3 linked regions of the Homo sapiens genome follow. The protein of the gene in region 3 purifies or fractionates together with the protein of the main gene of each other region. This does not show direct contact. Each region holds a gene or a part of one and is shown on either strand. Other genes may lie near its edges. The genes, in order: ACAD11, NAF1 and FAM9A.

Region 1 (3,653 bases), on a different chromosome or scaffold from region 3:
CTAGGTTCCTATTTCAACGAGCAAATAGGAGCAATCAGATGAGAACTTCCACAAGCTTACACTACTGTATCTACTGCATACAATAATCTGTACACATATATTCTGTCTTCCCTCCAAAGTCTGCAGAAGGACGTGCACATTTCTATCTAAGGGCAACCCCTTCTCTTGCATATTAGAGTCCTGCCTTCTTAAGGACTTCTTTCCAGGCCTCTCTCCTACACAAAATTTTCTCTTCTAGATTACTGTCATCAGCATACAAATATGATGTTATTTTTTAAAAAGCTTTCTCTTGACCTCACTTCCCCCCTACTTAAAACATTTCTATTTCCTTTCGTAGAAAAACTCCTCAAGAGATTACACGTCCTCCTCCTATCTTCTTAAACCCATTTCAATCAAGCTTTCATTCCCTTCTTTCCATTAATACTACTTTTTCAAGATCACTAATACAAACCATGGTTTTCCCCCACCTCTTTGGCCACTTCTTCTAAGACTCCTTTGTAGGTTTCTCTTAATTTGCTAACTTCTTAATATTGGGGTGCCTTGGACTCAGTCTCCAAACCTCCTTTTTATGTGAACTATTTTCTAAGTAAGACCTTCGATCTTATGTCTTTAAATATCTTCTTTTTGTCGATGGCTCTCAAATTTATATGTCTAGTCCAGATCTCTGCCCCGACCTCAAGACATAACCAACTGCTTACTATACATATCTACTTGGATGTCTAAAAGGCATCTTGAAACTTAACACTCCAAAACTGAGTTCCTCAAATTTCCCCCTCAAATCTGCTTTTCTATAGTCACCTACATTTCAGTTCACAATAACCCTATTCTTTCAGTTACCAAGGCAGAAATGAAATAATCTTCGTCTCTTCCTTTCCTAGCCCACATTTAATCAGTTAGTAAACCCTTCAAAATACAGTCATGCATTGCTTAATGACAGGGATGTGTTCTGGAAAATATGTTGTTAAGTGATTTTTGTCACGTGTAAACATCCTAGAGTGCACTTACACAAACCTAGATGGTATAGCCTATTATGCACTGATATATAATTATGTTTTATGATCATAAATGTCTCATAATGGAGTCACTTATGACAAGTGACTCAGCTTACAGTGAAATCACTGACCACTCAGAGTAGTAAGCATATGTGTGGTGGACTGAGGTGATAAGATAGCATCTGCTGTGGCCAGGCATCCCTGACACCTGACAAGAAAGTAAAGCCAAAAGTCAGCTGAAGATAATGGCCATGGAGATGTCTGTGGAGAGCCGTAAAAGCCAATCATGGCTGAGATGCCTGCAGAATCTCTGCCCATGAGAACTCTGAGGCCTCCTTTCCTTTGGCTGTGGTAAGCCCTCTGGGAAAAGAGCAGCTACCCACCACCAGGTCAGTGGGCATTCTGAGGAAAACCAAACCTGGTTTTCTCAGTCAGTGTGCTGGTCTCCCAGAATACTTGCTGTGTTTCCCTTCTCTATTAATGCCTATGTGTGTTGGATAGAGTTACATGATTGTTGTGTAGAAGCCACACAATAAATCGTGAATTCCTAAGCATTTAATTGGCACTGATTCGTTGTGAAACTTCTCAGCTGGTTGGAGTTAGCATAAATAGGCTGATTTGAACCCGATAGGACACACCTGAGCTCTGTGGTACAGCCTGCTGCTCCTAGGCTATAAACCTGTGCAGCATGTGACTGTACTGAATACTGCAGGCAATTAATTGTAACAAAATGATAAGCATTTGTGTATCTAAACACATTTAAACATAGAAAAGGTACAGTAAAAACACAGTATTATAATCTAATGGGACCACTGCCGTATATGCAGCCCGTCATTGACCAAAACGTCATTATGCAGCATGTGACTATATACTTACACTATGACCACTTCTTACCCATTCTACACTCCCACTCTGGTCTATGCCACTGATATCTCCCTGCTGGAACACTGTAATACATTGGTGTCCTTGCTTCTGCCCTTGGCCCCTTCAGTCAACTCTCAACACAAGAAGCAGAGATTCTGTTTTTTTTGTTGTTGTTGTTTGTTTGTTTGTTTAAAGATTACTTCCCTCCTCTGCTCAAGCATGTTTTAAGTCTCTCTCCATCTCAATTCAAAGTAAAAGCCAAAGTCTCTTTATTGCCTGACAGGGTCCCTGTTGCCCTTGCTTACACTACTTCAGGCATTTGGGCTGTGTTTCCTCAACACACTGGGCACACATCCCTTCCAGGGCCTTTGCATTAGCAGTCCCCTCTGTCTGGAACACTCTTTTCCTGGATATTTACATGGCTCACATTTTCATCCCCCTTCAAGTCTTTGCTGAATGCCGTGTGCTCGAGGAAATCTTCCTGCCCCACACCCAAACATTTCCTATTCTCTTTTCCTCCATGTTACATATCAACTTCTACATTGTAAAGTTCAGAAGCTGATTTTCCTGTCTGTCTTCTACAAATACAATGGAAGTTCCAGGGAGGCAAGATTATTGTTACATCCTCAGTGGTTGATACAGTGCCAGATACATATTAGGCACTCAGCTGCAAATCACAAGTTTTGTTGTATCAAGCTATATAATACTTTCATTATTGATTAATTCTAAATATTTTATCTTTCCAATAAGATTTAATTTTTGCAAATTTTAAAAGTAAATCTTGCAGATAAAAAGAGTATTTATGAAATTGGTAAGGCATGAGGAATAGTAATGCCACAAACACCATTTTCACTACCCGGAGAAAATTACTGTCTTTGAAACCCTGTATGTCCTTCCCCTTGAGTGACTACCATTCTGAATTTTATATTTATCATTCCCTTGAAGTTTATCTCTGTATATAATATACTGTTAATTTCTTCACGTTTTTCATTCTGTGTTATGTACAGCTGTAGCTGAATCATTTTCACTGTTGTATGCTACTCCATTATGTGAATATACTGCAATTTATTCATCCATTCTGTATCTATAGACATTGTGTTGTTTCCTGGATTTTTGCTATTACAAACAGTACAATGAACATCTTTGTAGATTGTCCCCTTATACTGTAGTACAAGAAAAGTCTCAGGAGTATGTATCTATGAGTAGAACTGCTAGGTCATAGGTCATGTGTATCTTCCCAACTTCATTTTTACAAGATCATGTTGAGTTATTTTTCAATAGCAGCTATACTAATTCACACCCCTATATGAGTCCCTGTTGCCCCATATCCTGATGCTTGATATTGTCAGATTTTTTTTTTTTTTGAGACGGAGTCTGCCTCTGACTCACCCAGACTGGAGTGCAGTGCTGTGATCTCAGCTCACTAAAGCCTCTGCCTCCCAGGTTCAAGCAATTCTCCTGCCTCAGCCTCCCGAGTAGCTGGGATTTACAGGTACCCACCACCACACCCAGCTAATTTCGTATTTTTAGTAGAGACGGGGTTTCACCATGTTGGCCAGGCTGGTCTCGAACTCGACCTCTGGTGATCCACCTGCTTCAGCCTCCCAAAGTGCTGGGATTACAGGCATGAGCCACTGCACCCAGTCTATTGTCAGATTTTTTAAAAGTCAATTTGGTGGTGTGAAATGGTTTCTCATTGTGTTGTTTTTTTTTTTTTAATTTGCATTTCCCTTATTACTACAGTATAATAAAGTTGAGCATCATCAAGTTTTCGCCCATTTTTCTGGTGAGCTATTA
Region 2 (3,653 bases), on a different chromosome or scaffold from region 3:
CTAACACCTGAGAGCTAAACTGTAAAGAGCAACTTAAGACACAGCAAGGCTCAGGCCGGCCCACTTCTCCTCATACAGCTCCATAGGAGGCACCCATATCCCTTCTTGGTCATTCCACCCAACTTAGGGGATTCTGGAACTTCCATACTACCTGATTCAAGATAAAAGCAAAGGAAGTAATAGATTGTAAGGAGAGTATAAGAAACTGAATTTGGAAAAGTAGCACCTGAGACCTTTACTATGAGGTGGGCAAGCAGCTTTCTTTATATCTTTAAAACTAGTATATATTCTGTAGGTGTTCATATAAAAATTTAATCCAACTGATGCTTTATACTTGCCCTGTCATTGAGAAGTGGTTTTCTAGGTATCCTTTCACTTGGCTCTAGGTGATAATACTCACCATTTTTTACTCAAAGTCATTATATTTTTGCTACAAGATCTCCAAGGATTCCTATCACACACAGAGGTTAACACACACTGTAACAACAACGTGGTACAGCTATAATGTAGGATCTGCTGGGAAAAATAACTGACAAGCAGAGAAGATATAGAGTGCATGCAGTTCCCCAAATTCCATCCCAGCGTAGGCTGGGCTTAAATGTTCTGTGTGCACCATGGCAAAAGTTTCAGCGGCGTAGAAGGCCTGTTTGAGCCAGCAGGCTGGAGGTGCACAGACAATACAGCAAAAGGGAGAATGAGCTGTACTCTCCTCCCCCTCTCCACACACATACCATGTCACAAACTTACTAAGTTATCTAGAGGGGGCTAGGTAACTCCCAGTTTTTCTATTATCTAGGAGGGGACTAGGTAAATCCTAGTTTCTCTAAGTAACAATAAATATATCAAGGATCTCCAGGCCTAGGAACAATGCTGGCAGGCTGTGCCTGTGAAGGGCCAAGGTCTGCATGCTGCCACCTGGGAACAGCCTTCAAACAATGTCTCTCTAGGTGAGCCAGCTTTGGGCTAAACTGCCAAAGGAGAAAGGAAATGAGGAAATGAACCTTTACAACTATTCAACATTGTCTTTTATCAATCACTTTGTGCTTTTTTCAATTCCCATCAACAAAAATGAAGAAAATACAGACGAATAGAGTATTCTAATCTATTAGTTAGGCAAACTGATCATTTCAATCACTGTGTGTATTACTGTATCATAAGTTACCTTGAAATATGTCATGAGAACTGAGGGGGTGGGGAACAACACTCCATCAATATAATACAGAGTCCTCTAGAAAATCATCACATCCTACCAAACAAGACAGTAATATAATCGTTTAAAAAGGAATCAGTAAAAATTTCCTACCCACTGATATATGAGAAGGAAACAGATTTCACTAGTTCATCAAGGGAACTAGCAATTCTTAGGATTAAAGGGCAAAGGTAGGAATAAAAATCTGAGACTGTCCTCCCTTAATCAGTGGGGAAGGCAAAGGGAGGTGGAAGGGAAATGAACCTGGGCTGTAAACTCATCCATTTCAGCTTTGTGACTTTTTAGCAAGGTTTCTCAAGTTTTAAAATAGAGGTAATTTTACTTCCTTGCAGGGTTTCAGTGAACTTAAAAAGATAACATAAATATCACTGTAGCTGATTACTATCGTGTTACTGAAGAAAAGAGGGAAAAGATGTTCGATGGCTTGCTACTGAAGGTAAAACTAATTTAGTATTTAGATAAGACATGCTAATAATCTAAAAGGTACTCAGTTTCATATTCTGGTTATTGGTTTGTTTAACAAATACTTTCTAATCTCTACTCCCACTACTATTTTGGAGAATCATTTCAAGGCACTTAGATTTATAATCAAGTATTTTTTAAAAACTTGTCACAAAGTCTTTCAAAAGCATTTATAAAGCATTCTATGTAAAATTTAGAAATAGATTTAATTTTTGCCAACAGGCTTATGCCATATAACTAAAGTTAGAGGTGTAAATGTTATATTTTATCTGACTCCTTTCAAATCTAAATGACAGCTGAATATTAATATTAGTCACATTTACAGGTCTAGAAATTCAAATGTAGTGGGAAATACAAAAAAAATGTCTGTTTAGAGGTTTTAATTTAGCAAAGTGTTGAGTATTTTCAGATTAAAATTGTCTAAGTTAGGTACTAAGAAAAAAAGACAACTGTCATGAAAATCACAAATAGCTCCTTTCTTATTTGTTTGTATTCAACTCAATACACATTTACTTGGCACAAATAATTTACAAAGAACTGTACTAGATACAATGGGGAATATCAAGGTGAATAAAACTGTCCCTATTGCCAGGAAATAAATACTTACTTAGTATTTACATTCTTGATTTTAGAATGTTTATGTCTTCTGCCAACCAGTCAGAATTGCCTAGTTGCTGAGTAAAGTGCACAGTTTTCTACATTAAGGTGGACATGCAGGGTTGTTCCATTAGAAAGATGTTAAAAGGGACCAAATCTTATAGTAATTACTTGAATGCACATATTTGTAATTCCCCAGGATGTGCCTACAGTGACAATTCATTGCTGTCAGTGAAATATTTTTCCACTTGGAAAAGATTCCACACCGAGCTTCCACCTGAGGAAGTCAAAGTCTGAAAAGTCTGAGAGCCACTATTCAAAGGAGCTCACAAAACAAAAATGCTTAAGAGCTACTATACTATGGGAAGTCTTCTTCACTCAGCTGAGTATCTGGACGGTAGGAAACGATGTGTTATGCATTACGTAGACTCACTGCCTAGCAAGTTATCTGACAAACACTAGGAAAGAATTCTATATATGTGTATTTAATAACTCATGTGGCAAAGAGTAATAATCAGTATTAAACCAATTTACAGACAGATATGAAGTACTAAAGGAAATCAAGAACGTACTGAAATTAGAGAGCTCTAGATTGTCCATCAATTAAAATAAATAAACTCTTCTGAGAACTGATGGGGAAAGTCAGAAAAAAACAATAAATAAATAGAATAATTTGTAAGATTTGAAATGTTTTACAAACCTTTCCTGCTGCTTGTCGATCACTTTTAAAAATTACAGTCTCCTCATTAACTGGAGGTAGGTTAGTCATAGATTCAATTATTACTGAAAAATAAAATAGATTACTTCAAGATTTACTTATAAGAGAATGTAGAATTTTAATGAAAATCTAAGCTTTAATTCCAACATAATTTAAAAAAAAATTGAAGGTGGGATTATTACCTCATTAACCATTTTCTCTTCAGTAAACAAAGTCTACTTATTACCAAATAGCACTGGGAAATGTTTTTATACCTATTTTTAATACAAAAAGCTATAATTCTAAGGGAAAAAAATTAAAATGCAAATCCCACAGAAAATCTGAATCATCCATTAAAGATTCAACAAATTCAAGCTATGTACATATTCTCAAGTAATTTTTACCAAAAATAGTGTAATCACGTTTAGTTGTAAAACTGTTTTAGAAGAAATTAGTCTTCTTTCTCACTCTTAAAAATTCTTTTCTACAAAGCACTGTTTAGTTACTGGTATATGAAAAAGTTAAATAAAAGGCTTCACAAAAGCATCTTCCTATGAACAGAAGAAGTAAAAGTGCTAGAGCTCACAGTAATTTTTATCATTACATGAAAATTCCCTCCTCAAAAAGCAAAAACATAATCTCCAAATCTCCAGTTCTTTTAAATGACACAAATATTAAAGAACTGAT
Region 3 (3,753 bases):
AGGGTGGGGCTGGCCCACCCCGTGTATCCTGTGGGAGCAGGAGGGGATGGAGAAGATGCCAGTGTCCCCTCCTATCCTTCCTGGCCCGTCCAGCCCCTCCCTGGGGCTGGCTGCAGAACTCACAGCTGCCTCGCACACCTGAATGGCCCCTGCAGGATCCTTGCGGTGTCCCTGGGACAGAGCTCAGCCCTGCCCCTGTGTGCCCCAGAGACCTGCGTGGCCCGGAGGACCACGGGTGCCACAGGACCTCCCCAGCCATCTCTGGGAGAATGTCAGGGGCTGCACTGCCACTTGCCTGCCTGGATGCCCAGGTGACCCCTCGTGACCCCAGGTGTCCTGTCCTGACCGGCGGCCGGGCTGGAGGGACCCACTCGAACTGTCCCCCACAACACCCCTGCTTGTCGCCTCCCCACACACTCCGCCCCTCCTCCTCCCCTTCCCCCATCCCCTCACCCCACGAACCCCACACCCCTCCCCTCCCCTGCCCCCATCCCTGGCCCCACACCCGGCCCCTGCCTATCTGCCACTCCCCCGACCCTCCCCCCTCTGCCACCACCCCTCCCTTGCTCCCCTCTCCACCACCTCCATTCCCCCAAGCCCCCCTCCCCTGCCCCACCCCTCCCCACTGCACACATCCACAAGTCCCCGGGACAATCCCGGGCCCTGGGGATCACTCAGGTGTCTCCAGCTCCCTCCCTGCCCTGGCCCATCCCAGCCCACCCTCAGGGCCTCGCCCTGACCCAGGCCCCAGGCAACGATGCCAGGGCCATTTCCTGCTTTGAAAACCTGGGGCCTCTTAGCACGTGCATGGTGGACTCCAAAGCCACAAAGGGGCCAGGGGTCTCGGGCTGCCCATGTGCCCCCCGCGCAGAGAGCAAACAGACCATCTCCTTGGGCGTGCACCTTCTTTCGTGGCCCCCTGGGCGGCCGTAACTTGAGCTTCCAACTGAGCTTTGGCAGCCTTCCTGCTGCGCTTCCTGCCCACGGGCTCCATGGTTGGCTGTCCTGGGAAGTTAGAGGCGATCCCTGAACCTGGTTGAGTGCAAAGTCAAACTAAGTAAGCTAAGGAAACAGGATATGTGAAAGGAGAGCCAACGGGATCTCGGATTCAAGAAAGGGTGGGGCTGGCCCACCCCGTGTATCCTGTGGGAGCAGGAGGGGTCGGAGAAGATGCCAGTGTCCCCTCCTATCCTTCGTGGCCCGTCCAGCCCGTCCCTGGGGCTGGCTGCAGAACTCACAGCTGCCTCGCACACCTGAATGGCCCCTGCAGGATCCTTGCGGTGTCCCTGGGACAGAGTTCAGCCCTGCCCCTGTGTGCCCCAGAGACCTGCGTGGCCCGGAGGACCACGGGTGTCACAGGACCTCCCCAGCCATCTCTGGGGGAATGTCAGGGGCTGCACTGCCACTTGCCTGCCTGGATGCCCAGGTGACCCCTCGTGACCCCAAGTGTCCTGTCCTGACGGGCGGCCGGGCTGGAGGGACCCACTCGAACTGTCCCCCACAACACCCCTGCTTGTCGCCTCCCCACACACTCCGCCCCTCCTCCTCCCCTTCCCCCATCCCCTCACCCCACGAACCCCACACCCCTCCCCTCCCCTGCCCCCATCCCTGGCCCCACACCCGGCCCCTGCCTGTCTGCCACTTCCCCGACCCTCCACCCTCTGCCACCACCCCTCCCTTGCTCCCCTCTCCACCCCCTCCATTCCCCCAAGCCCCCCTCCCCTGCCCCACCCCTACCCACTGCACACATGCACAAGTCCCGGGGACACTCCTGGGCCCTGGGGATCACTCAGGTGTCTCCAGCTCCCTCCCTGCCCTGGCCCATCCCAGCCCACCCTCAGGGCCTCGCCCTGACCCAGGCCCCAGGCAACGATGCCAGGGCCATTTCCTGCTTTGAAAACCTGGGGCCTCTTAGCACGTGCATGGTGGACTCCAAAGCCAAGAAGGGGCCAGGGGTCTCGGGCTGCCCGTGTGCAGGTCAGCCGGCCGCTCAGCGCTTCACACCCTGGTTGCGAGAGGGCAGCATGCTCGACTTCCTGCCTCCCTACCGCGAGCGCTTCACCTGCGCTTCACACCCTGGTTGCGAGAGGGCCGCATGCTCGACTTCCTGCCTCCCCACCGCGAGCGCTTCACCTGAGGGACCCCTGATGCCGCTTCCTCACAGAACCTGCAGGCACTGGCACCACGACGCTCTCTTAGAAAAATGGGTCCTCAGTTCTCGCGAGAGCAGCTGCCCTGGCTATCCACGCTCCTCTCTGATTGGTCAGCTAAGTGCGCATGCGCATGCGGGTGAAGGACCTTGGGGGCCACGACCCCTGCTGACACGCCTTCCCTCTTTCCGTAAGGGACCACCCATATTTGCTGTGGACTGGGGTGGGTGGTGGTTCTTTGGGGCCTCTGTCCCCAGAAGTTTTCAGCGCCTCCTCCTGGGGAGGGATGCAAGGACTCGGGATGGAAGCCAAGTGGACGGGGCCTAGGACCTCGCCCCCGAGCTCCTTCCAGCCACCCCTGCCCCTTTGGCTAGAATGGCCTTCGCCTTGCAGGTGGAGCCCAGGCTCCCTCCCATGCCCTGTGTGTTTCCACCATGTCCAGCTGCACCCTTTTTATCAATGGATTGTGCTTTTATGTTTTTTGCTTGCTTGTTTGTTTGTTTTGGAGACGGAGTCTCTCTCTGTCGCCCAGGCTGGAGTGCAGTGGCAAGATCTTGGCTCACTGCAACCTCCACCTCTCGGGTTCAAGCGATTCTCCCACCTCAGCCTCCCAAGGAGCTGGGATTACAGGTGCGTGCCACCATTCTCGGCTAATTTTTGTATTTTTAGTAGAGACGGGGTTTCGTCATGTTGGCCAGGCTGGTCTCGAAGTCCTGACATCAAAGTGATCCACCTGCCTCAGCCTCCCAAAGTGCTGGGATTACAGGCATGAGCCACTGAGCCCATACCCAAAGTCGTGTCTTTAAAGGCATCAACTGTATGATGTATAGTTGTTTCCAAGAAATGATGACTAAAAGGTACTGATTGAGAAACTTTTGTCATTTCTTTCTTCAAAAAAAGTCAACTAGTTTCCTGCTAGTTCTTGCCACTTAAGTTAGCCATAGAAATCCCAGGAGTGACCATCAGGTTGTCAAAGGCCTTTCTTCTTGTTGCTGTAAGGTTGACCTGCTGATAGTAACAGATACACCCCACTCTCGGTTATTTCAGGATCAAGTAGATCCATTGGCCATGGAGTGATGGTCTTTTCAAGTCAGGCTATTTTGAGAGGTAATAAAATATTCGTGTACTTTAATTTATTTCCTTTTGTACTTGCTTGTTTTAAAATACAGTTCTGCACATAAATATTTTTGACAAGATGAACAATATAGATCTATTTTGTCACATTACAAAACAAACAAATTATTAAGATAAGTCAACAATGACTGTAAGTAGAACATTGTATTTCGTTATTAATTTTCATTAGATTTCCAAAACATTTTTCTGTATAACATATTCAGATATTTTGAATTCAGCAATGCAGTCAGATGTTTCATGTAAGTGGCTGGGTGCAGTGGCTCATGCCTGTAATCTCAGCACCTTGGGAGGCTGAGACGGGCAGATCACTGGAGGCCAGGAGTTCGAGACCACCCTGGCCAACATGGTGAAACCCCGTCTCTACCAAAATTACAAAAAAAACTGGGTGGCACCACGCCTGTAATCCCAGATACTTGGGTGGCTGAGGCGCGAGAATCGTTTGAACCCAGGAGGCGGAGGTTGCAGTGAG

The links.
Region 1: the proteins of FAM9A (region 3) and ACAD11 purify together in Homo sapiens (affinity purification with mass spectrometry; 3 studies listed by BioGRID and IntAct, with this or other methods). This does not show direct contact.
Region 2: the proteins of FAM9A (region 3) and NAF1 purify together in Homo sapiens (affinity purification with mass spectrometry; 3 studies listed by BioGRID and IntAct, with this or other methods). This does not show direct contact.

Annotation. Positions count from the first base shown.
Region 1 is NC_000003.12:132,653,290-132,656,942, forward strand, and holds part of ACAD11 (acyl-CoA dehydrogenase family member 11), read right to left. Parts: intron 1,382-3,653; exon of another isoform or gene 1,141-1,381; intron 1-1,140. UniProt on the Homo sapiens protein: Acyl-CoA dehydrogenase, that exhibits maximal activity towards saturated C22-CoA.
Region 2 is NC_000004.12:163,142,813-163,146,465, forward strand, and holds part of NAF1 (H/ACA ribonucleoprotein complex non-core subunit NAF1), read right to left. Parts: intron 3,053-3,653; coding exon 2,970-3,052; intron 1-2,969. UniProt on the Homo sapiens protein: RNA-binding protein required for the maturation of box H/ACA snoRNPs complex and ribosome biogenesis.
Region 3 is NC_000023.11:8,799,178-8,802,930, forward strand, and holds the start of FAM9A (protein FAM9A), read right to left. Parts: upstream 2,207-3,753; 5' UTR 2,134-2,206; exon of another isoform or gene 2,063-2,133; intron 1,033-2,062; 5' UTR 995-1,032; coding exon 904-994; intron 1-903.